Homo sapiens: one gene and its partners. The protein of the gene in region 6 purifies or fractionates together with the protein of the main gene of each other region. This does not show direct contact. Each region holds a gene or a part of one and is shown on either strand. Other genes may lie near its edges. The genes, in order: SETX, SLX4, ZNF644, ETS1, TXNDC9, PIAS4 and SIMC1.

Region 1 (3,500 bases), on a different chromosome or scaffold from region 6:
ATAAGCCATGCCATAGTGGTTAATGAAAATTACTACAGAATAGCATTTCCCAACCAGGGGTGATTTTATACCTCACCCCCCAAAAGGGGTATTCAGCAATGTCTGGAGACATTTTTGGTTGTCACAAAGGAGATAGGGAGTGCTAGCGGCATTTAGTAGACAAAGGCCAGGGATGCTGCTACACATCCTACAATGGACGGCACAGCCCACAGCAAAGGATTATCCAAAATGTCACCAATGCAAGGCTGAGAAACCCTGCCACAGACATACTACAAGAATGAAAATTATTATTATTACTATTTTTTAAGACAGAGTCTCTGTCTGTCACCCAGGCTGGAGTGCAGTGGCACAATCTTGGTTCACTGCAACCTCCGCCTTCCAGGTTCAAGTGATTCTCCTGCCTCAGCCTCCTGAGTAGCTGGGATTACAGGTGCCTGCCACCACACCTGGCTAATTTTTGTATTTTTAGTAGAGACAGGGTTTCACTATGTTAGCAAGGCTGGTCTTGAACTCCTGACCTCAGGTGCTCTGCCTGCCTCAGCCTCCCAAAATGATGGGATTACAGGCGTGAGCCACCATGCCCGGCGAGAATGAAAATTATTAATAATTGAACAAAGAGGTGAACAGATACGTAATAAAGCAAATATAGCAAAATGTTAACAACCGTATAAACTATGTGATGGGTATATCATGTTCACTGTATAATTTACTTTTCTATGTTAAAAAATTTTCACAATAAAATGTTGAGAGCCAGGCATAGTGGCTCGTGCCTATAATCCCAGCAATTTGGGAAGCTGAGGTGGGAGGACTGCTTGAGCCCAGGAGTTCAACACCAGCCTGGGCAACAGTGAAACTTCATCTCTACAATAAACACAACATAAAATTAGCTGGACGCAATGGCACACGCCTGTACTCCCAGCTACCCACAAGGCTCAGGCAGGAGTATTACTTGAGCCCAGGAGGTAGAGGCTGCAGTGGGCCATGACTGCGCCACTGCACTTCGGCCTAGGAGACACAGCAAGACCCTGTCTCTAAAAAAAAATAAAAACAATCTTCAGTTACCCTCTGAACAAGATAAGTTTGAACTGTGCCCCAAAAATAGGTATTTTGTGTTTGAACTCAAAAAATAAAAAACGTTGGAAAAAAAATGAAGTCCTAATTATATATCCTAATTATATGTTTAGCAAACAAATTTGCAATATAGATAAGCCTAAATTCTTATGGTACTAAAATAATAAAACTGATATAACTTGAGGAACCATCAAGATACTCACTAACACGTTCATGTAGAAGCAAGTAAGGATATTTCAGTATTTCAAGAAGAGGAACTCGAAGCTTATTTTCAAAGTCTTGCCCAGTGATGTCAAACAGTGGCATCTCTCCATTATTGTCTACTATATATAACTCATCATCATCTCCAATTTCTGCCTTCATGGATTTTTCAAAGTGATTTATGAGACGTAAGGTTTCTAATTCCCATAAAACCTAGAGGAAAATAAAATGGGCAGTGTGCGTTATGTCTTATCATCAACAAAATACACTGAATGTGACGACCTAGAAAGCCTTTTCCTAAGTACAAAAATTCTGAAATGTAAAGTATTAGAGCTTGTATTTTAGATTTAAAGAAAACTATTCAAATGTGGCCACTTTTATGAAAAGTGAGTACACAGAGTATGAGATATTGGCTAGGCACAGTGGCTCACAGCTGTAATCCCAGCATTTTGGAAGGCTGAGGTAGGAGGACTGTTTCAGGTCAGGAGTTCGAGACCAGCCTGGGTAGCAAAGCAAGACCCTGTCACTAAAAAAAAAAAAAATAGAAAAATTAGCTAGGTGTGGTGCATGCCTACAGTCCTAGCTTCTCTGGAGGCTGAAGCAAAAGGATCACTTGAGCCCAAGAATCTGAAGCTACAGTGAGCTATGATTGTGCCACTGTACTCCAGTCTGGATGACATAGGGAAACCCTGCCTCTAAGAGAAAAAGAAAACAGGCCAGGCACACTGGCTCCTGCCTGTAATCCCAGCACTTTGAGAGGCTGAGGTGGGCGGATCACCTGAGGTCGGGAGTTCAGAACCACCCTGACCAACACGGAGGAACCTCGTCTCTACTAAAAATACAAAAATAGCCAGGCGTAGTGGTGCATGCCTGTAATCCCATATTCGGGAGGCTGAAGCAGGAGAATCGCTTGAACCCAGGAGGCGGAGGTTGCAGTGAGCCAAGATCACGCCACTGCACTCCAGCCTGGGCAACAACAGGGAAACTCCATCTCAAACAAAAAACCAAACAAACGAAAAAAAACAAGAAAACAAAAAATAGTATGCTATGTTTAAACACTTTTTATTTTTTTTTGAGACAGAATCTCGCTGTCGCCCAGGCTGGAGTGCAATGGCGTGGTCTCAGCTCACCGCAACCTTGGCCTCCCAGGTTCAAGCGATTCTCCTGCCTCAGCCTCCTGAGTAGCTGGGATTACAGGCGCCCACCACCACGCCTGGCTAATTTTTGTATTTTAGTAGAGACGGACTTTCACCATGATGGCCAGGCTGGTCTCAAACTGCTGACCTCGTAATCCACCTGCCTCAGCATCCCAAAGTGCTGGGATTACAGGTGTAAGCTACAGCACTCAGCCTTAAACACTTCTCTTGTAGAAGTTTTCTATAAATATCTCAACATCCCTATCAACTACATTCAAAAAAAAAAAAAAGAGAAGCTGGAGCCTCTCTGTCAAATGCAAAACCGAGGCCCTTCTATGTCTTCCCTTCTATGTTCTAGCCATAGCTAACTACCTTAGTGCAGCTTGTGGTATAAAAGACGCTGGATAGCTTCATAATTAGAAAACTTTATAAAGTGCACGTTTCTCAACACAAGTCCATTACTAATCATCCTCTCCTCTATATACTGTATATATCTCTATGGTCTACGTTCTGTTTTTCATCAATAAATAAACCAAATATTCAAAGCCAAATATTTAGAATTATATCTTTCACTTTTGTTATCATGACTGGAAAATATGCTTGCCCTTAAAGGTTTATGCCATTTGCCCATTAAAAAAAGAAAAAAAGAAGTTATTATTACCAATTAAAAAAAAAAAACCCTGGCCAGGCGCAGTGGCTCACAGCTGTAATCCCAGCACTTTGGGAGGCCGAGGTGGGCAGATCACCTGACGTCAGGAGTTTTGAGACCAGCTGGGCCAACATGGTAAAACCCCATCTCTACTAAAAATAAAAAATTAGCCGGGTGTGGTGGCACGTGCCTTTAGTCCCAGCTACTTGGGAGGCTGAGGCAGGAGAATCGCTTGAACCCACCTGGGAGGCAGAGGTTGAAGTGAGCCAAGATCACGCCACTGCACTCCAGCCTGGACAAGAGAGTGAGACTCTGTCTCAAAAAAAAAACAAAACAAAAAAAAAACAACCCACTAACAAAAACCCAGGCCATTCAGATACTCAGATACATGCATGTATTATAGCACTGACCAAAAAATTATGAAACAAATCCCCTCCCAATGA
Region 2 (3,500 bases), on a different chromosome or scaffold from region 6:
GAAGCCCACCTCAGATCTGCTGTGCAGCCTCCTGCAGCTGTTCTCACAGCACTGCCTGGGAACTGGTTAGAAATGCAAATTCTTAGTCACCCTCCCGAAGCAAGGCTCTGGGGCAGGCTGGGCCACGGGCGTGCTATAAGAAGCTCTCCAGGTGTTTCTGAAGCCCCTGAGGGCCGAGGACACTATCAGTGGCCTCATTCATCTGGATTTTGGGAGGAAATGGGCCCCCAGGCCGCAGGCAGGTGCTCACTCACAGCCTGGCCTTTCTCCCAGTCATGCTCAGCCCAGCCCGGCCTGTCCTTGCCCTCCCCGGAGGTGCCTGGATGGGAGCAGCAGCACCGAGGGGGCCGACACCTGGGGCTCTGACTCTCCCCGGGGACTGAAATGAGCAGGGAGGTGGCATCCCTGCACCTGGGAGGACCAGGAAGAACAGGCCTAACAGCCTCTCACACTTGTCCCACCTGATTCTTTTTTTAATTGAGGTGAAATTCACATAAAAAAATCGTAAAGGGAATAATTCAGTGGCATTAAGTATTCACAATGTTGTACAACCATCACCTCTATCTATTTGCAAAACATTTTCACCACCCCAAAAGGACACCCTGTATCCCATAAGCAGTCACTCCCCATTCCCCCTCCCTCCAACCCAGGCCAACCACTAACCTGCATTTTCTCTGGATTTGCCTATTCTAGACATTTCATATCCATGAGTGCAGACAGTACATGACCTTCTATGTCTGGCTTCTCTCACCCGGCAGCATGTTTTCTGGGTCGTCCACGCGGTAGCGTGTGGCAGTGCCTCACTCCTCTTTGTGGCTGAACACTATTCCATTTTCTAGTGGTCTAGATGGACCACGTTTGGTTTCCCTGTTCATCTCCTGACGGGCATTTGGGTTGCTTCCAGCTTTTGGCGATTGTGAACAGCGCTTCTATGAACATGCATGTCTGAGTCCCTGTTTTTAATTCTTTTGGATATACAGGTAAAAGTGGAATTGCTGGGTCCTGCAGTCAATCTACGGTTAACATTCTGGAGAACCACCCTGGTCCAATCTTAAGGCATGCCGATACTTGCTGAATGAGTTGTGGCCTTTGGAGGTGCCGGCTCCGTGTTCTGGAGAAGGGTCCACAGATGTGGATTTTTAACACATGCCCAGGTGAGCACTGGAGCCAGGCAAGTTTGGGAAACACTGACTTACTGGCTGAGAAGTGTAGCATGAGAACCAGCCCGGCTCTCCTCCACTGTGGAGGGGAGTCTGGAAGGCAGCGGAAGTGTCATGCCTCAGGTCAGCAGGCATTCAGAGGGCAGCCCCTGGGTCTCATGACTGATCTTCCCACCCTCTTAGTGTAAAATAGTAACAAAGACAGTCCCCTTCCCCAGCTCTCCTGGCTACTCACTGGGTGTCTCTAACCCTTCGGGCTTCTGAGCTCCACCAGCGCTTGGCATCTGGGCCGGAGGAGGGGTCTCTGGAGGCCTCTGCTCTTCCCCGTCCCAAACGTCCCACAGAGCCGAATTCAGAAAGCTCGGCCTGCTATTCCCCAGGGAGCCCGCGCCCGAGGACTTCTCTTGCAATTTCCTCTGGGTAGTGCAGCTTCCTCGGATGGGGGTGGTGTCCAGGAGTCCCGGGGAGCGACAGTCACGGCTGTCGGCGGCCTCGTTCATCCTGCGGCTGGGGCTGCTGGTGCTCAGGGGGCCGGTCCGCTCCAGGTTCCAGTGGTCAATGGGAATTGGCGAGAGGGGCTCCATGTGCCAGCAGCAGTCGTCAATTGGAATTGGGGGGTCACTGTCCAGTGGGGGGCTTCTGTTGGCCTGATGGGAGGCCACCTCCTGCTCATCGTCACTGTCTCCGACTTCCACCACTTCACCCGCTGGGGTCTGGTTCAGGAAGCTTGGCCCAGGCGGCGAGTGTTTCAGGAACCGCCTGCTGAAGTGGGCGCGGTCCCCTGAGATGGGATGTGGAGCCAGCGGAGAGGAGTGCGGGTGGCCCCCGGGGTGGGGACGGGAAGGGCTTCTGTGGCCTTGCCTTCTGCCGTCAGAAGTTCCTGGAGAGACGGGAGTGAGGCATGAGGACGGTGTCTGGGGCGGTGGTGTCTGGGGCCTGATGACAGAAAACTTCTGTGCGACTTCGTTCCCTTCCCTGTTTCCTACTGAGGCCCTGGGCGTGTGCTGAGTCACCGCCTGCACGGCCAGCCCGCTCCTGAGGCTGCTGATTTGGGTCTGGGAAGAACAGTCACGGCTTCTGCTGGCCAGCGGGGTGGCGGGCACCAGCCACGAGGTGTCTGTGGTGCTGGCCTCGCTGGGGCTGCTCTCACGGTCACAGAACAGCCAGGGAGCCCCTCTCCTGCCCAAAGAGCCCCGATTCTCCGGCAGCGCCCCCTCATCCTCCTGCTGCAGCACAGCTTCGCTTCTTGGTGGGCTCTGGGAAGGTTCCTGATCTGCATCAACATCAATGATGGAAAACAGCTCACAGGACCTAGGGCTAATTTCTAGAGCTTTCTTTTCTTCCAGAGGATCACTAGAAATGGACTTCATTTTGGTTTGTTCTAGCTCCAGCTCCTCATCCGAGTCCAGTAAGAGGATGACCTCATCTTCTTCGTTCAGTTTGGATGAAGATTTCTGAGATCTGGAGCTCGAATGGTCAGGATTTGACTGGGTTAGGTCAATAGACGGAGATTTTTCTGGGAACATCAGGACCCCCTTATTTCTGCACTCCAGCACGGACCGACGCTCTTTGCCTTTCTGGTGCCCTGGCTCTTTAGACAGCGTGAGGATGCTCCTGTCCCTTTTCTGCTTTGATGGCACAGCTGGAGACAGCAAGGTTGGGGAGCCCACCTGGGAAGTTCCGCCACGGGACCGGGGTGTTGACAGGGACGACCCACTTGTGTGATGAGACCCGCGGGGACTCCCGCCCTGGGGAGGCCCCAATAGGAAGCGGCACGGGTGCGGTGGAGATGCCTGCCAGGGAGCCAGGCGATGAGAAACCTCCAGCCCCCTTTCCCTGACAGCGCCACTTTGTTCCTCGGGCTCACTTGTTATTTGGGACGGCTCTGAGATCTCTCCCTGAGTTGATGAGAAGAGCTGTTCGTAATCCCCGGCATCATCTGAGTGCGGAAGAGAGCCTTCTTTTCTCTCTGCCTGGCAGTCCCTGGAAGGGCTGGAGCAGCTGGAATGGCCAAGCGCCTCCTCTGGCGCCTCCTGCTCAGGGGCCTCTGCTCCCCGTGCCCCTGAGTGCTGGCCCTGGGGTGGCGGGAGAGCGCACTGTCCCATCTTCTCCCAGGTGGTGGCGGCCTCATCTCTTCCTGGCTCCAACGGCTCCATCTCCTCCACCTTGTCCCACTGTTTCTGCACCTGGACACCTGCTAGGAGTTGCCCAGAAACCGGACTGCCACCCTCCAGCCAGTCAGCGTCCTCGCCGGCACCCGCTGCCCTTTCTTCCTGGAGAAGCTTTCGCTGAGTAGCTGCAAATTCATAAATTTCTTCCATTTCTGCTTCATTCACGTTT
Region 3 (3,500 bases), on a different chromosome or scaffold from region 6:
AAGTCATAAAACTAACCTCTAAAGGATTACTATTAATGAACACTAAGAAGCACCTCTCTGATTTTGTCACTGGGGGGAAAAAAGGGCCATAGTACCAAATATCACCTGATTTACCTCCCAATTCATAACAATGCCAAACAAGGACAGAAGAAAAGAGAGATGGATTCAAGCATCAATTCTCACTACCCTTGGGAGGGAGGACAAATATGCCATAAGAAGTTTAGAAACAAAAACTCCAGCCCGGGCAACATGGTAAAACCCTATCTCTACTACCGAAAGAAAAAAAAAAAAAATCAGCCAGGCATGATGGCATGCACCTGTAGTTCCAGGTACTCAGGAAGCTGAAGGAGGAGGATCGCTTGAGCCTGGGAGGTGAAGGCTGCAGTGAGCTGAGATTGCGCCAATGCACTCCAGCTAGGGTGACAGACTGAGACCCTGTCTCAAAAGAAAAAAAAAGGAAGGAAAAGAAAAAGAAACAAGCAAAAACTAATTTATGGTGATAGAGGTTAGAGGTTAAAATAGTGGTTACTTCTGTAGGGAGAAATTAATAGGAGGGAGCACAAGGCACCTTTAATCAGTGAAGAAAAATATTCTACATCTCTATCTGGGTATTTCATTTAAAATAGGCTCTAATCACGGAAAATGCTTGCATTCCACAATTCTCATGTCTGTGCTTTTTTTACATCCTCTTCTCCCCAGGTGTAACCCAGTACCTCCCACTACCTGGGAGTTACCTAGGTATACTTATATGTATAAATTCACTGAGTTGTACTTAAGATTTGTGCACTTCACTGTATGTTATACCTAAAAAAAATACTTAAAAACAAGTAACCAATTAATAGCTAAATCTAAAAACCTTTTCTCAATTCTCATCCTTCTTTATCAATCTCCATCATATTGTTAATCACAGAACATCAATATTCCCTAAATGAAACACTTTCCCTTTTGAAGATCGACTAGGCTTTGTTAGGATGTTTTTTCCAGCATTTTCTGTAGTGTCATATTAATTCTCTCTAAATATTAATTCAATATTTATCTTTTTTCTTTTGTTTTTTGGAGACTGAGTCTCACTCTGTCGCCCAGGTGGGGATGCAGTGGCATGATCTTGGCTTACTGCAACCTCCGCCTCTCATGTTTAAGCAATTCTCCCGCCTCAGCCTCCCAAGTAGGTGGCATTATAGGTGCACACCACCATGCCCAGCTAATTTTTGTATTTTCAGTAGAGACGGGATATTTCATCATATTGGCCAAGCTGGTCTCAAACTCCTGACCTCAGGCGATCTGCCGACCTCAGCCTCCCATAGTGCTGGGACTACAGGCATGAGCCAATGCACCCAGTTAATTCAGTATTTATCAAGTGCTCATGTATGAGACACGAATTAGGCACCCTCCAATATATATTTCCAATCTCTCTCTCACACACACACACACACACACACACACACACATACACACACACACACACATATACACACCCAAACCAAATTCCCTAAACTGGATTCAAGCCACTCTATTACCTGGTATCAAACTGTATTTGCTGTTTTAATTCCTATCACTTCTTTATGGGAATATTCTTCTCAAGCATTTTCTGTTCTCAGCTATCCTTTACGGTTCAGTTCAATTTCTATGTTATTCTTTCCCTATACCCCATAGGACTTACTATCTGTAATTGCACTGTCCAATACAGTAACTTCATGTGGCTACTGAATACCTGAACTCTGGCTAGTCTGAATTGAGATGTGCTTTAAGTATGTAATACTAACAGATTTTGAAGACTTAACATGGTTAAAAAAAGAAAAAATGTAAAATAGTTCAATCATGTTTATATGATGAAATAATAGTATTTAGATACTGGGTTAAATAAAAATCCATTAATAAAATTTCACCTATTTATTTTATTTTTTGATGTGGCTATAGAAAATCTAAAATTGCATTTGTGGCTCAACTTATATTTCTATTGGGCAGTGCTGACCTATACAATCTATTTATAAATGCCCACAAATTACCTTTTTCTTCTTCTTCTTCTTAAACTGATAAATACAAATTGTATATATTTATGGTGTACAACACATTTTGAAATACATATAAATTATGCAATGGTTAAATCTAGCTAATTAACACATGCATTACCTCACATAGTTATATTTTGTGGTGTGAACACTTAAAATGTACTCTCCTAGCAACTTTCAAGTATGCAATATTAACTATAGTTACTATGCCCCACAAATTATCTCTTAACATATAATGTCATCTTCCCGATGAGTGCCAGAATTCAACATTAAGCTTTTTTCTTTTATGAATTAAATATTATATTAGGAATTACTAATAGTAATTAAGTGCCATTTAATTTTAATATCCCTTTAAGATTTTTAACAAGGAAGTGTAAGGCATTTCAAAGTGTTCAAATATTAAAAAAAAGTTGTTTTCAGATAGCTATAAATTATACAATTTTTCATCTATATTTTACTTATATACAATTCTAAGTCAAATGTCCCACCAGCAAGGATAGATAGCATGATTAAACCTGTAGCAATCCAAATCCCATAAAGTATTAGTTCTGATTAAGCCTGATTTTTTTCATCTTAGTCACTCAGTAAAGGGCAGCATCCATTTTGGTCAACATCATTGTACCAATGTCCAGCAGCCAAGACAAAGAGCCTTTATATGGTGGTATGAATAGACAATGAGAGCAATACGACACCACTTGAAATAAGGGGGGGGAGAAAAATGTTTTTATAATGCTAAGTTTTAAAACTAGGAGATGAAACTTACAAATTGTGTAACAACTAGGTAAAAGGATATATATGTAAGAAGAACAGGAAGGTAGAACAGAAAGGTCTCCTCTCTAGACCTTCTCAAGATATACCTAGGTTCAAACTTGGCTACTCCATTATTAAGTGGATGTGTTTCCTCACATGTAAAGTGGGAATATATACATCACAGGATTATTAAAAGAATATAGTAGATGCTTAATTAACGTCATCTGTCTTTAATACTAATAATTATATAATGGTAATAAGATTATGGGTGACTTCCCCTCCCTCACTTTCCAAATTGCTGTATTTTTCAAGCATAAATGAAAAACTTACAATTTCATACTAGTACCCCTCCTCAAATGAACCTAAAATTATTTTTACTAGCTGTCTTTGACAAATTTGCTTATAAGCTTAAAATCCGTGTTTGTGCTAGGAGGAGGTTGGTGGTAGAAAGAAAATTAAAGAGGGGGAACTGATAACTTTAACACCATACCAGCACAGACATATACAAAACAAAGTGTGGAGAGGAAAAGAGCAAAAGGAAATGCTGTTTGGGAAATTCCCAACTCAGACTATCCAATGAAAAGATTATATTCCACCCGCCTCAATCTAGCTACCTACCAGCCACTCCTCACTCTCATCTTGGGTTTATACGTACATTACAAATACGCATAGCCACTCACCTTCTTCTCTCTACTAATAGTCACCACATGGCCTCACAGTCAAAAATTGAAAGGAGAGTGA
Region 4 (3,500 bases), on a different chromosome or scaffold from region 6:
AATAGTGTAAGTTAGAAAACTTGTACACACTTTTTCAGTGTAAACCCCTCTTTTTACAAATGAGGAGAAAGACTAAGGCGATGCTGCTAATTGGCCAAGCTGAGACCAGACTCCTGGTCTTCAGCCTCCTCCTGTGCTTAGAGAAGATGCTTCTCTAGACCTTTGTTACCCAGCGTCCAAATCATTTTTGCACCCAAACAGGTCTCATGGATGCTGCTTAGCTGGGGAGTAAATCTTCAGATGCCACAGTTGCTTTGCATTTATGCAATAAACGTGTGCAATGCTAAGAAAAAAATTGGTGCAGCTGATGTTCAAGCAGTTGTCACGTGGGAGGGAATTCTCTTCTGCCAAAAAGCCAAAAAAAAAAAAAAGAGAGAGAGAGAGAAGATGCTTCTCTAAGCACCCTCATCACCCTGGATGGCGAGGACAGAAACAAGCATGAGATGGAGAAGACAAAAAAGTCAACACTTTGGCTTATGTGGGTGTCTCATGTCCAAAAAATCACTTTAAAACTATGGTTCTGCTTGATTCTAGAGAGTTCTATTCTTCATAGAGCGAGTGACCACTTCTCCAACTTCCCACCCTCCCCAAACTGGCAACCCGGCCAGGACCTGTAGGCTCTCACTTCCTTTCACCCAAAGCTTGCCAGGGCAGGGCAGGGCAGGTTGAGAGACACAGAATAAAGGAAAAATTAGGGAGGAGAGGGACTGTTCAGGCCAAGGCAGCAGAAGAACAAGAAATCCCAAAGAGACCAGGCTTGAATCAAGGCTGAATCCAGTTCACATCAACTCTGACCCTGCTTGGCTGTATTTCTAGATAACTTTGACATCAGTTAAGCCTTTTTCATTTGGGGTTATGTATTCCTAAAAGAAAAACTACGCTTTTAGGTAAATACCAAGTAAATTACACTTTAATTTTTTTCTTTTGAAAACAAAATTCTTTTGAAATCAGCAGTTTTTGCCAAACTAATACAATGTTACCGCAAAAATTAAAATACAAAAAAGTAACAGATGGATATTAGAATCACCTGAAACCTCACCATGTAGAGATAATTATACTAATAATTTGTTCAATATTCTTCTGGGTATTTTTTAATCTATCTAAACGAACATAGATGTCACACACACACACGTGATTACAATTTTACCTTCATGAGATTATTCTCCACATGTTCTTTTGTAACCTGCTTTGTTCACTGACATTTAACATAATGCTATGGACATTTTTCTCTGTTGATAAATGTGGCTGTCTATCCTAAAGATGATGACTGCCAAGTATTCTATTGTATGTATATATCATACTTTTAAAGAGCCTCTTATTATCGTATAATTAATTTGTCCCCAATTCTTTGTCATTATAAAAATTCCTAAAATATTTTACATTCCCACTAAATGCCGAAAAAGAGCATTTTGGGGACAAAGAAAATATGCATTCCATATTTGAATACATATTGACTAACTGCATTCTATAATAGACCAGCCAAAATTAGACTCCCACTGACAAAGGCATCATGTTTTAAATTTCAACTTGCCCTCTCGTCTTCATGTTAGCTTCATAGGCAATGAATTATGGTTAAAACATATCCTGGGTATGAAGATGGCACATGGGGAATTCAAAAGCACAATAAAGCTGTGGCAGAAAATGTAGATTTCTCCCCACCACCCCTCACCCCAGCCTTTCCTCTTTGAAAACAATGCAAAATTTGAATAGATTTCCAATGAGCATTTATCCTAATGTCAATAATTTAGGATTCCTATCAATTCAAACAAAAAGCATGTCCTTTTGGCTTGGAATACAGGAGACAAAGAATTTGGCTTCCAGGGCTGGGCTCGGTGGCTCACGCCTGTAATTCCAGCAATTTGAGAGGCCGAGGCAGGCGGACCACCCAAGGTCAGGAGTTCAAGAGCAGCCTGACAAACATAGTGAAATTCCATCTCTACTAAAAATACAAAATTAGCCAGGTGTGGTGGTACATGCCTGTAATCCCAGCTACTTGGGAGGCTGAGGCAGAAGAATCGCTTGAGCCTGGGAGGCAGAGGTTGCAGTGAGCCGAGATCTCGCCATTACACTCCCACCCGGCAACAAGAGCAAAACTCCATTGAAAAAAAAAAAAAAAAAAGAATTTGGTGTCCAAAACAACTAACCATGTAAAAAAAACTTGCTCCAAACAACAGCACTTTTGCCAAACTAAAGGCAACACCTGGGCTACCAAGGCAACATCTTTAATCTACAATGTATAGAGTTTTAATTTCTTTTTTCTGAATACTATAGAAATGTATTTTTGAAGACTCAGAGTATCTCCTCTTTCAGGAAGCTTTCCCCTCCCCCCTACCCTCTTTGGCAATTGCATGGACCTCCTTGATGCCCCTCCATGGGATTTACTGTAACGGTGTAACAAAGTTCATGACACTTCCTGTATCTATGCCTGTTTCTGCTCCTGAATGATGAGTAACTTGAGAGTAAGGATGGTGTCTTTTCAGATGACACATAGTAGCCATGCAACAAGTGTCTGTTTACTAAATGAGGGAAAGTACCTAAAGTACTTGAAACAGAGTTGGTGTGTACAATCCTTGTGCGTCCTGAGCTTATCCAAGAGAGTAAGTTATCGTTTGGACATTAAAAAAAAAAAAAAAAAAAAAAAAAATCCCTGTGATGAAGTGTGTCCTTGTGTGACCCTGAGGTTAGGCTTCTCAAGAGTTAACTACAAGCAAGATGGCACTTTTCTCTAAACTATAGGATGTACCAGATTGATGAGTTCATCTATACTCCTTCAGTGTGTTCTTTCTGATTCTCATGAGTAGCCCACGTGTATTTCCCAAATCATTTGAGTAGATGTCTTCCCTGACCTGTCACTGTAACAAAAGCTCCCAAATCCAATTCTCTAAGAACTCAGGTTTAAGATCCATCATATCTAGGAAAGCTGAACATTCCTTACTCCCCATGGAAACTTTGTGGTTACAACGCATAGAAAAGAAAAAGGATTAGAAGAACTGAAGATGGTTTTTCTGTCTCACTACTAAATCTACAAGAACCTCATTTGCTTGACTAAGTAATCCAACATTACAGTAGTAGTGAATATTCCTTCTTATTTTAAGTAGCCAGCACTGACAAATGAAGGCTGTGTTCCAAATTATGGGCTACTGTCTTCTGTGTCTTAAGCTAAGTGCATTTATTCTTTCACTAAGGTTACAGAGCAGCAACTCACAGTACAATTAACATCTCAGTCTTTGTTTCTTCACAACTTCACTATAATTATTCCGCCAACCCTTGCTTAAATGGAAATGAGTCATATCCATCTCCTATTTCTCTAAAAATAAACCCATCTCCTAATTAAGCATAACACTTTCAAGTCCTGTATGAATTGACATAGCTCAACGAATCCTTCTTAGAATATTAAAATGAACTCATGTCATTATAATTTTAAAGAGTATATTGTTTTACCCTTCCTTGAGGAGTAACTCGCTACTATCTCCTGAAAAAGAGAAAGACTAGAAGATGTT
Region 5 (3,500 bases), on a different chromosome or scaffold from region 6:
TCACTGCAAGCTCCGCCTCCCTGGTTCATGCCATTCTCCTGCCTCAGCCTCCCAAGTAGCTGGGACTACAGGCGCCTGCCACCATGCCCGGCTAATTTTTTGTATTTTTAGTAGAGACGGGGTTTCACTGTGTTAGCCAGGATGGTCTTGATCTCCTGACCTTGTGATCCGCCTGCCTCGGCCTCCCGAAGTGCTAGGATTACAAGCGTGAGCCACTGCACCCAGCCTACCAGTAGTAACTTTTATTAAGCCATCTTCCAATGAAGACGGAAACAGAAGTGAGATTTTCTTGGCCAGGTGCGGTGGCTCACATCTGTAATCTTGGCACTTTGGGAGGCTGAGGCAGGCGGATCACTTGAAGTCAGTAGTTTGAGACCAGCTTAGCCAACACGGTGAAACCCTGTCTCTACTAAAAATACAAAAATTAGCTGGGTGTGGTGGTGCATGCCTGTAGTCCCAGCTACTTGGGAGGCTGAGGCAGGAGAATCACTTGAACCTGGGAGGTGGAGGCTGCAGTGAGCCGAAACTGTGCCGTTGTACTCCAACCTGGGCAACATAGTGAGACTCCATCTCAACAAACAAAAAAAGTGACATCTTCTTTACATTAAAATTTATTTTCTGGCCTGATGCAGTGGCTCACGCCTGTAATCCCAACACTTTGGGAGGCTGAGGCGGGCAGATCACTTGAGGCCAAGAGTTCAAGACCAGCCTGGTCAATATGGTGAAACCCCATCTCTACTAAAAATACAAAAATTAGCTGGGCGTCATGATGGGCACCTGAAATCCCAGCTACACAGGAGGCTGAGGCACGAGAATCACTTGAACCTGGGAGGTGGGGGTTACAGTGAGCTAAGATTACACCACTGCACTCCAGGCTAGGCGACAGAGTAAGACTCTGTCTCAAAAAATTCATTTTCAACTGGCCAATTCACGAGTGTTTCTAAAACAGACTATTGTAACAATCTTTTAGACCGGTGGTTCTTAACCCCAGGTGTTCATTATGATCAACTTTTATTTATTCATCTTTTTTGAGTTGGACTCTCACTCTGTCACCCAGGCTGCAGTGCAGTGGCGCGATCTCGGCTCACTGTAATCTCTGCCTCCTGGGTTCAATCGATTCTCCTTCCTCAGCCTCCCGAGTAGCTGGGATTACAGGCACCTGCCACCACGCCCGGCTAATTTTTGTATTTTTAGTAGCGATGGGGTTTCACCATGTTGACTAGGCTGGTCTTGAACTGCTGACCTCAAGCAATCCACCTGCCTCAGCCTCCCAAAGTGCTGGGATTAGAGGTGTGAGCTACCACACCCAGCCTGCCGTCAACTTTTAAAATATCCAGATGAATCAAAATTCTCTGGCAGTGGAGTTGGGAAACATACAGCTGTTCTTATGCTCAAATAAAGCTTGAGAACTACCTCTAGATGACTCACACACAAAATACTTCATGGTTATTTTTACCAGTAAGCTTTTTGTGCACTTGATGTAGTTTTTCCTGAACTAAGTTTGGCTCTAACATAAGTTATGTGTAACCTTGGTGCCTCATCACTTTTTCCCCGGATATGTTTTTTCATATGTTACTCATGTAGTTCAGTAACGAGATTTCAGTGAAAAATGGTAAGAGAGAACAAATTAATAAATGGTTTTTAAATAAAGCTCAAAACAAATGATAAATCAACCTTTATATGAGAAATATGTTCCTGAAAATTTGTAAATAAATCAACTCCATACTTTAACTGCAGTAAGGAACGTATTTTTTTTTTGAGATGGAGTCTCGCTCTGTCGCCCAGGCTAGAGTGCAGTGGCACGACCTCTGCTCACTGCAACCTCCACCTCCTGGGTTCAAGCAATTCTCCTGGCTCAGCCTCCTAAGAAGCTAGGATTACAGGCACCCGCACCATTGCCTGGCTAATTTTAATTTGTATTTAAAGAGCAAGACAGAGTGTCTTGCTCTGTTGCCAGGCTGGAGTGCAGTGGCACGATCTCAGCTCAATGCAACCTCCGCCTCCCAGGTTCAAGCAATTCCCCTGCCTCAGCCTCCTGCACAACTGGGACTACAGGCACGAGCCACCATGCCCAGCTAACTTTTTGTATTTTAGTAGAGATGGGTTTTCACCATGTTGGCCAGGATGGCCTTGATCTCCTGACCTCATGATCCACCTGCCTCAGCCTCCCAAAGTACTGGGATTACAGGCATGAGCCATGGCGCCCAACCCGTCAATCAATTTTTAAAAATCCAAAACAACAGTCATGGTATAAATAGCTATAGGCCTTTACGTATGTTTAAAAATAACTAAAAGAGCATAATTAGATTGTTTATAACACAAAGGATAAAAGCTTGAGGTGATGGATATTCCATTTACCCTGATGTGATTATTAAACACTGCATGCCTGTGTTAAAATATCTCATGTACCCCATATTTACCTACTACTACCCACAAAAGTTAAAAATTAAAAAAATAGCAATAGGCTTAAAACATGGGTTCCAATCTCTCTCTTTTTTTTATCATTTAGTATCTGAGTGATACTAGGTGAGTCAATTTCTCCAAATCTTGGTTTCCATACATGAAATACAGGAATAATAATAAGTGCCTCTGAAGATTATTGTGAATGTTCTAGGGATAATATACATGAAAGCATCCTGCCTACTATGTGCTAGGAACTTTGCTAATATATAAAGTTCACTGGATGATTTTGATTTTTCAGTTCTGTTTGAAGGTGAGTACTCCTGGTGATGCACTGTTTATACACCATCAAATGTATTTATTGACCACCTACTATGCGTCAGGCAGTTGCTTTAGGGCTATGATCCCAGAGAACAGTAGGTCACAATACAGGCAAATGCGCTGCCTCTACAAAACGAACAATCTAGTTGGGAAAGACATAAAAAAAACAAGTGAGGCCGGGTGCCGTGGCTCATACTTGTAATCCCAACACTTTGGGAGGCCAAGGTGGGTGGTTCACCTGAGGTCAAGAGTTTGAGACCAGCCTGGCCAATCTGGAGAAACCCTGTCTCTACTAAAAAGACAAAAGTTAGCCGGGTGTAGTGGTGGGTGACTGTAGCCCTGGCTACTCGGGAGGCTGAGGCAGGAGAATCACTTGAACCCGGGAGGTGGAGGTTGGAGTGAGCCAAGATCCTGCCATTGCACTCTAGCCTGGGTGACAGTGTAAGACTCTGTCTCAAAAACAAAAAAAAACAACAAAAAAAAAACAAGTGGACAAATAATATTTTACATACTAGTATATTTATATATCACCTCATCATATTTGTCAGAGGTTGGCAACTTGAGGAATGTGTGCCAATGCGAGATGGTTGTGTACCATAAGGGCAGAGGTTTCTCTGATACCTTTCTACCTGCCTAATCCCTTCTCTCACTGTTCCTCACAAGGGATTTCACCATCTCAATATTTTGTTTCATTTTTATTCTCTTAGTCAATGAATACCAGGCAATCAATTCTTGAAAGGTGTTAACTAACAATGAAGCTGTTGGGTTGTGAGATCAAG
Region 6 (3,500 bases):
TCAGTGCTTGCAGACAAAGACACGAGAGAGAGAAGCGTGGAGCCCAGCACCTCTCCTCCGCCTGGGATCGCCCTGAACCCCCAGCACGCCCGGTGCACACAGCCTGGCAGTGACCTGAGCCCACTGACCAAGGACACTCCTGCAGGCTGCCAGCGAGGAACCAGAGCCCGGGGGAAGGATGCCACTGGCCAGCCCCCTTTCCAAGGGGAATAAGCAGGGAAACCAGGCTCCCAGGTGGCCCTGGTCACCCCTGGCCCTGGCAGTCACAGCCTGGTGTGGTCCCTGCATGCGCCACAGAGTCTGTGTGAGCAACGGACTCTGTGGGGGAGATGGCGAGGCGTGTCCGAGGTTGGGTTATAAAAAGGGCTCCAGCTCCCAGCTTGGAGGTGCACACTCGCTACCCTAGGGTGAGGGAGCCACCAGGCTGAGGACGCCCAGGCAATCCGTGCAGGAGTCCGCACCATGAGGACCTGGGGACTGTGGCCAAGAGCTGGCGAGGAGCTGAGGCCTGCCAGCCACCACACAAGGATGTGCCTGCTCCAGCCCTGGTCGAGCCTCCAGATGAGGTGGCTCCAGCCTGACTGAGCCTCATGAGAGCCCCCAAGCCCCAATGCCCCGCAACACAGCTCACAGGTTCCTGAGAGCTAACAGACGCCCCCTGCTTCCAGTGGCTCCATTTCGGGGTAACTTGTAACACAGCAAGGGGTGACCAATATCAAAGATGGTCCCTTTGCTTCCGAGGAAGGACACCCCTGGCCACTGTGGCTCCCCGCCCTGGCTGCGCCACAGAGAACATCACTCGAAGTCGGCTGTGTGGCTGGGCTGGGCTGGGCGACGGGGCCTAGGTGAAGCCTCCAGTCGCAGCCTCCCCAGGGTGACCACTCACCTAATTCGGTGGGCTTCAGCAGCTCATCCAGCATATTAAAGAACGGCAGCTTCACCAGGCGGACTTCTGGCTTGAGGGTCTTGGCGGGCAACCGTCCCAGTCCGTTTAAGTACTTTCCGTAGAGCACGGGGTAGTCAATATTGGGGCCTGCCAGCGGAGTCCTGGGCACAGCGCCGGCCCGGTCGTAGGTGGAGTGCATGGTCAGGGGGTCCAGGGGCCGGTGCGGCTGTGGGGCAGGCTCCGAGTTCTTCTTGGCGTAGCGGGTCTCGTACAGCTCCTTGATCTTCTTGAACAGCTCAGGGCTACAGTCAAACTGCACCAGCTGGAGGGCCCTGGTGACGAGCTCGTGCTTCAGTCCACTCTTACTCCGGCCCACGAAACCCAGGAGCATCTGAAGGTCGGAGACTCGAAAACTCATCACCATGTTCTGAGGAGGAGCAAGCACACACACACTCAGAGGACACAGCTGCGAGGCAGGGGACTCCATGGAGGCCAGGCCCCGATGTGGGGGCCGTGAAAGACACCCACTCGCCAGGAAGCGCCAGCCTTGGCTGGGGCTGGTGGAGTGCCCTGCCCCTACGGTGCCCCCTCCCAGCAAAGCCCTGCCCCCTCCCTCCTCCTCATCAAACTTTCCCCAGCATCGCCAACGCAGCAAAAGCGCCTCTGACTAGGCCCCCCCTTCTATTTTAGGTTCTCTTTCCCTGTCTTCAGCCTGAAAGCATCCCCAGGGCAGGAACTGACAATTGTGCTTTACTTGTAAACAGCCTCTGCCAGTGCCTTACCGGCAAACACCAAATGCCTCTCTGACCCTCAGTCTCTACGTCGGGAGGATAATGACATAAAGCACTGGCTGGGCGGGCGCTCAACCCATGTCAGCCACAGATATGTTTTCCCTTCGGTCTCGCCAACGGTAGCCACAGTTTACTTAGTACTAATCACCTGCCGGGAACCAAGCCGGTCATGTGATTATATATTTAACTCTGATCCTTAAAACACCCCTGCTAGGCTGGTGTGTGAGCTCTGTCACAAATGAGGAACTGTCGGCTCAGAGGTGGCAGCGCCAAGATTCGAACCCAGGCCTGGCTCTGAAGCCAGGGGCGGTTCTTGCTGCCACACTACCCTCTGGATGTCAACACAGGGCTGGGCCTGTGGGGGCCTCCGAAACATCTGCTGATCATCCCAGGCAGGGTTTCTCCTCCTTGGCCCTGTGGACACTGGGGCCATCCTGGGCTCTGTGTGGTGCTAAATACCCACAGCTCACGACAACCAAACACACCTCCACACCCCACACACCTCCACACCCCACACACCTCCACACCCCACACACCTCCACACCCCACACACCTCCACACCCCACACACCTCCACACCCCACACACCTCCACACCCCACACACCTCCACACCCCACACACCTCCACACCCCACACACCTCCACACCCCACACACCTCCACACCCCCCACACCTCCACACCCCACAGCTCCACACCAAACACACCTCCACACCCCACACACCTCCACACCCCACACACCTCCACACCCCACACACCTCCACACCCCACACACCTCCACACCCCACACACCTCCACACCCCACACACCTCCACACCCCACACACCTCCACACCCCACACACCTCCACACCCCACACACCTCCACACCCCACACACCTCCACACCCCCCACACCTCCACACCAAACACACCTCCACACCAAACACACCTCCACACGTTGCCCTGAGTCCCTGGGGGACCGGTCCAAGGGGAAGATAGCAGCCACAGGGGCTGTTGCAGGACCTGGGTCAAAGCGACAAATGAGGCTTGGCAGGACCTGGCCCTCATCGCCTGGCCGGGCCTCTCCAGCGAAATAAAAACCAAACAGCAGAGCCCAGCTGACCCTGGTGTTTGAGGTGGGGTAGACTGGCAGTGGCCTGACCTCCATGAGGGGTAGGACCCTGAAGGGGAAGGAAGGCTCCTCAACAGGCTGCAGAAGCCAGGTGTCCTCGAGGGATGGGCTGGCAGGGTTTCAGGGCCACCCACCCTTAGCCCTGAAGCTGGCCTGGGATGAATGAGATGTGGTGGGAAACAGTAGCTTCCAGGAGGAATGGGGAGAAAGCTCAAGCGTCAAGGGTGTTAAGGAAAGCTGGCGGGTACCCGAAGAAACCAATAAACCATTCAAACTCCACTCGAAAGACCCTGAGGGTCGAAGCCAGAGGCAGTCCCAGTGGGGTATGTAAACTGCAGCCTCCGTGCCAGGAGGCGCTGAGGTTTCCGGCTCCTGGCTGCCCCAGGGTGAGACCAGGAGCCTAGCCGCACATTTCAGCACCAAAGCTGCAGCAGCCGGGGCCCACTGTCGGGTCCTCATCTGTCAGCTCTGATTTCTTCCAGCTGTATCGGGCCAGGGTCCTGTTGGAGACGGAGAGGCTGTCCAGGCTCAAAATGACAGGGACACACGTGCAGGCGGCCCAGCCCTGCCCAAAGAGCCTCGGGAGAAGCCTCTTCCCATATCAGGGCTGCGGGGCCCCGTGACTGTAAAGAATCGGGATGCCAGCGTCTTGCTCCCTACCAGGCACCAGCAAGGCCTGTGTCGCTAATTTCACAATGAGGACACCCATCGTGTA
Region 7 (3,500 bases), on a different chromosome or scaffold from region 6:
CATGGTAAAACCCTGTCTCTACTAAAAATATAAAATTAGCTGGGCATGGTGGCACATGCCTGTAATCCCAGCTGCTTGGGAGTCTGAGGCAGGAGAATCACTTGAGCCAGGTAGGTGGAGGTTGCAGTGAGCTGAGATTGCGCCATTGCACTCCAGCCTGGGCAACAAGAGTGAAACTCCCTCTCAAAAAAAAAAAAAAAAAAAGGAAAAAAAAAAAGAAACATTATAACACTGCAACAGAAAAATGGGCAAAGGACAAGCATAGGGAATTTGCACACATACCCTATGTGTTTCCAATAAACATAAGCAAGATGTCTGGCTGTACTGCATGTGAGCACACTCCTTTATCTCCAACCTCACTAGCTGCTCTTCCTCCCTTGGGACACTATGGTGTTCCCTTGGGCTAGGTTCTGGATGTTCTTCCTCTTGTCACCTCAACCTAGATGATTTTATCCAGGTCAATGACTTCACTATAACCTATGCGCTAACAAGACTAAATTTGTATCTCTAGTCAGGACTTTTCTTCAGAGCTCTAAACTCAGTACAAATGTTATACTTGGCATCTCCAGTTGGCTATTCCACAGGCATCGTTAAGTTTTATACCTTCAAAACAGAACTCTTGAATCTTTCCTCTAACCCTGTTCCTCCCAAGTCTGCTTCATTTCAATGCATGACACCAACATGCATTCAGTTGCTCAAGCCAGAACTCAGGGCATCCTTCTTCATTCCTTCCTTTCCCTTGTTATCCACATCCAAGTTATCAGGACCTGTTGATTTTATTTACTAAATATCTACATCCCTCCACTCTCCCAGTCTGTACCACCACTCCAGTCCAAGCTACAGTTATTTCTGACCTGGACTACTACAGCCAACCTTCTAACTGATCTCCCTAATTTCACTCTTCCCCTCTTACAGTAGGGTGACTACACTTCTGCTTTGTTTGGGACAGTTCCAGTTTTCACCTGTTGCTTGACATCCTGGTCCAGTTAGCATCCCTTTTCATTTGCAAAAGTTTCCCAATTGGATGATAAATTATATGGTCTCCCTACCTTACCATCTTTTCTTTTCACAGTAGCTAAAGTCATCTCTAAAAAATGTAAATCAAGGCTAGGTGCAGTGGCTCACGCCTGTAATCCCAGCACTTTGGGAGGCCGAGGCGGGTGGATCATGAGGTCAGGAGATCTAGACCATCCTGGCCAACATGGTGAAACCCCGTCTCTACTAAAATACAAAAAATTAGTCAAGCGTGGTGGTGTGCTTGTAGTCCCGGCTACTCGGGAGGCTGAGGTGGGGGAAATTGCTTGAACCTGGGAAGTGGGGGTTGCAGTGAGCCGAGATCGCACCACTGCACTACAGCCTGGGCAACGCAACAGAGCAAGACTCCATCTCCAAAAAAAAAAAAAGTAAATCAAATCATGTCACTGTCCTGCTTAAACCTTCAAAGATTTCTTACTGTATTACAATAAAATCCAAATCCCTTATTGTGGTCTCCAAAGCCCTATAACCTAACCTACCTACTTCTCATCTCTTCTGACTCTGTCCATCAGTCGTTACATTGCAGCCTCACTGGCTTTCCATTCTTCCAGTAAGTCATGCTCATTCCCGCCTCCAAACTTTTGGTTTTGTTGTTCCCTTTGACAATGCCTTATTCATCTAGATCTTATAACTAATTTGTTGTCATTTTAGTCTCAGGTCAAATATTAACTCTTCAGAGAGGCCTTCTCTGAAAACACAATCAAATGTTCCCAATCCCACCAAAGTTACTATTATACTGTTCTCTTATTTGTTAGTTTGTTTACTGCCTATCTTTCCACAGTAGAATGTAGTTCCATTATCATCTTGTTCACCTCTGGTCCCCAGGGTTACAGCATATGCTCAATAAATATTTATTGAATAAATGAATCATAATAAAAAAATAAAAAATAATGACATCTTATGGAATCTGGCTATCAAACAGCAAAGATTAAAAGAACAAAAATACCGTATTTTTTCCCCTAACACTCTGTATTATCACCTGACATTACATTTATAGTGTTGTTTACTATCTGTGTCCCCTCAGTAAAATGAAATCTCCATGACGGCAGGGACTTGGTTTTCATAGATGTATTCCCAGCACCTCTAAGAGTGCCTGGTATATAATAAGTGTTCAATAAATATTTATGGAATAATGTAACAATACCTAGGGGTGACTAGGCAGCAGAGAAAGAGATATGATTGGCCATATACCACTGGTAAGAATATTAATGCACAATTTCTGTAGGAAATTTGGCAATACAGTTGATTCATGAACAACACAGGTTTGAACTGCATGGGTCCACTTACAAGAGAGTTTTTTTCAATAAATATATTGGAAAATTTTTTGGCGATTTATAACAATTTGGAAAACTCACAGATGAACTCCACAGCCTATAAAAATTGAAAAAAACTAAGAAAAAGATATGTCCTGAATGCATAAAATATATGTAGATACTAGCCTATTTTATCCATTTACTACCATAAAATCAACACAAATCTATTATACAAAGTTAAACTTTATCAAAATTTATGCACACAATCACTTACTGACCATAGATGGTGACATCTGCAGTTGACAGAAATGTAAAGATGCAATATTAACTCACAACTGCATATTTTTAAATTCATTATTTTTTTCTTTTTAATTTGTATCACAACTGCATAAAATTTACCATAGACTACACTGTACTACCGTGATAATAATGTCCTACTACCACAGACATCTGCTGCTGCTGTGGTGGGCTCAAGTGTTGTGAGGATCCACTTAAAACGCCACGTGACACTAATCAATTTCTGCACTACTTCCCAGTAAACTGTGTATCACGGTAACAAGTGTTCTCTCCTGGGTTTTTTTCCACATATACTTGTTTAATCATGTGTAGGGTAATATCGTAAACCTTGAATAACACCATGAAACCCATACAAAGTGCTTAGTGATGCTGGATGTGCTCTCAAGAAACAGAGAAAAGTCATGACATAAGAAAAGCTGAATCGCTTGAGATGTACCGTAGATAGAGGTCTGCAGCTGTGGTTGTCCCCTATTTCAGACAGATGATTTATCTTGTAAACAGACGATGTAAACCTATGGTATTGACAAATGCAGTATAGTACTGTAAATGTATTTTATCTTCCTTATGATCTTAACATTTTTCTCTTGCTTACTTTATCGTAAGAGTCCATATAACATACAAAACATGAGTTAACTGCTTATGTTACTGGTAAGGCTTCCAGTCAACAGTAGGCCACTGGTAGTTAAGTTTTCGAGGAGTCAAATGTTACATGTAAATTTTCAACTGCACGGGGGGGTTAGCAACCCTAATCCCCGTGTTCTTCAAGGGTTAGCTACATATAAAGTAGGGCACACCTTTTGACTCAGCAATCTAACTTCTAAGAGGAACTTAATAAACAAATGAACAAGAGTACAAAGATTATGAGGGAATTTTTCACTGGGTTCTTAGAGAAAATTTAGAAACGAAGGCATAATA

The links.
Region 1: the proteins of PIAS4 (region 6) and SETX purify together in Homo sapiens (affinity purification with mass spectrometry; one large-scale study listed by BioGRID and IntAct). This does not show direct contact.
Region 2: the proteins of PIAS4 (region 6) and SLX4 purify together in Homo sapiens (affinity purification with mass spectrometry; 2 studies listed by BioGRID and IntAct, with this or other methods). This does not show direct contact.
Region 3: the proteins of PIAS4 (region 6) and ZNF644 purify together in Homo sapiens (affinity purification with mass spectrometry; one large-scale study listed by BioGRID and IntAct). This does not show direct contact.
Region 4: the proteins of PIAS4 (region 6) and ETS1 purify together in Homo sapiens (affinity purification with western blotting; 2 studies listed by BioGRID). This does not show direct contact.
Region 5: the proteins of PIAS4 (region 6) and TXNDC9 purify together in Homo sapiens (affinity purification with mass spectrometry; one large-scale study listed by BioGRID and IntAct). This does not show direct contact.
Region 7: the proteins of PIAS4 (region 6) and SIMC1 purify together in Homo sapiens (affinity purification with mass spectrometry; one large-scale study listed by BioGRID and IntAct). This does not show direct contact.

Annotation. Positions count from the first base shown.
Region 1 is NC_000009.12:132,344,987-132,348,486, forward strand, and holds part of SETX (probable helicase senataxin), read right to left. Parts: intron 1,486-3,500; coding exon 1,275-1,485; intron 1-1,274. UniProt on the Homo sapiens protein: Probable RNA/DNA helicase involved in diverse aspects of RNA metabolism and genomic integrity.
Region 2 is NC_000016.10:3,587,607-3,591,106, forward strand, and holds part of SLX4 (structure-specific endonuclease subunit SLX4), read right to left. Parts: coding exon 1,396-3,500; exon of another isoform or gene 664-1,395; intron 63-663; exon of another isoform or gene 1-62. UniProt on the Homo sapiens protein: Regulatory subunit that interacts with and increases the activity of different structure-specific endonucleases.
Region 3 is NC_000001.11:91,012,036-91,015,535, forward strand, and holds part of ZNF644 (zinc finger protein 644), read right to left. Parts: intron 1-3,500.
Region 4 is NC_000011.10:128,577,559-128,581,058, forward strand, and holds part of ETS1 (protein C-ets-1), read right to left. Parts: intron 1-3,500. UniProt on the Homo sapiens protein: Transcription factor. Directly controls the expression of cytokine and chemokine genes in a wide variety of different cellular contexts. May control the differentiation, survival and proliferation of lymphoid cells.
Region 5 is NC_000002.12:99,322,834-99,326,333, forward strand, and holds part of TXNDC9 (thioredoxin domain-containing protein 9), read right to left. Parts: intron 1-3,500. UniProt on the Homo sapiens protein: Significantly diminishes the chaperonin TCP1 complex ATPase activity, thus negatively impacts protein folding, including that of actin or tubulin.
Region 6 is NC_000019.10:4,010,736-4,014,235, reverse strand, and holds part of PIAS4 (E3 SUMO-protein ligase PIAS4), read right to left. Parts: intron 1,314-3,500; coding exon 887-1,313; intron 1-886.
Region 7 is NC_000005.10:176,241,424-176,244,923, reverse strand, and holds part of SIMC1 (SUMO-interacting motif-containing protein 1), read right to left. Parts: intron 1-3,500.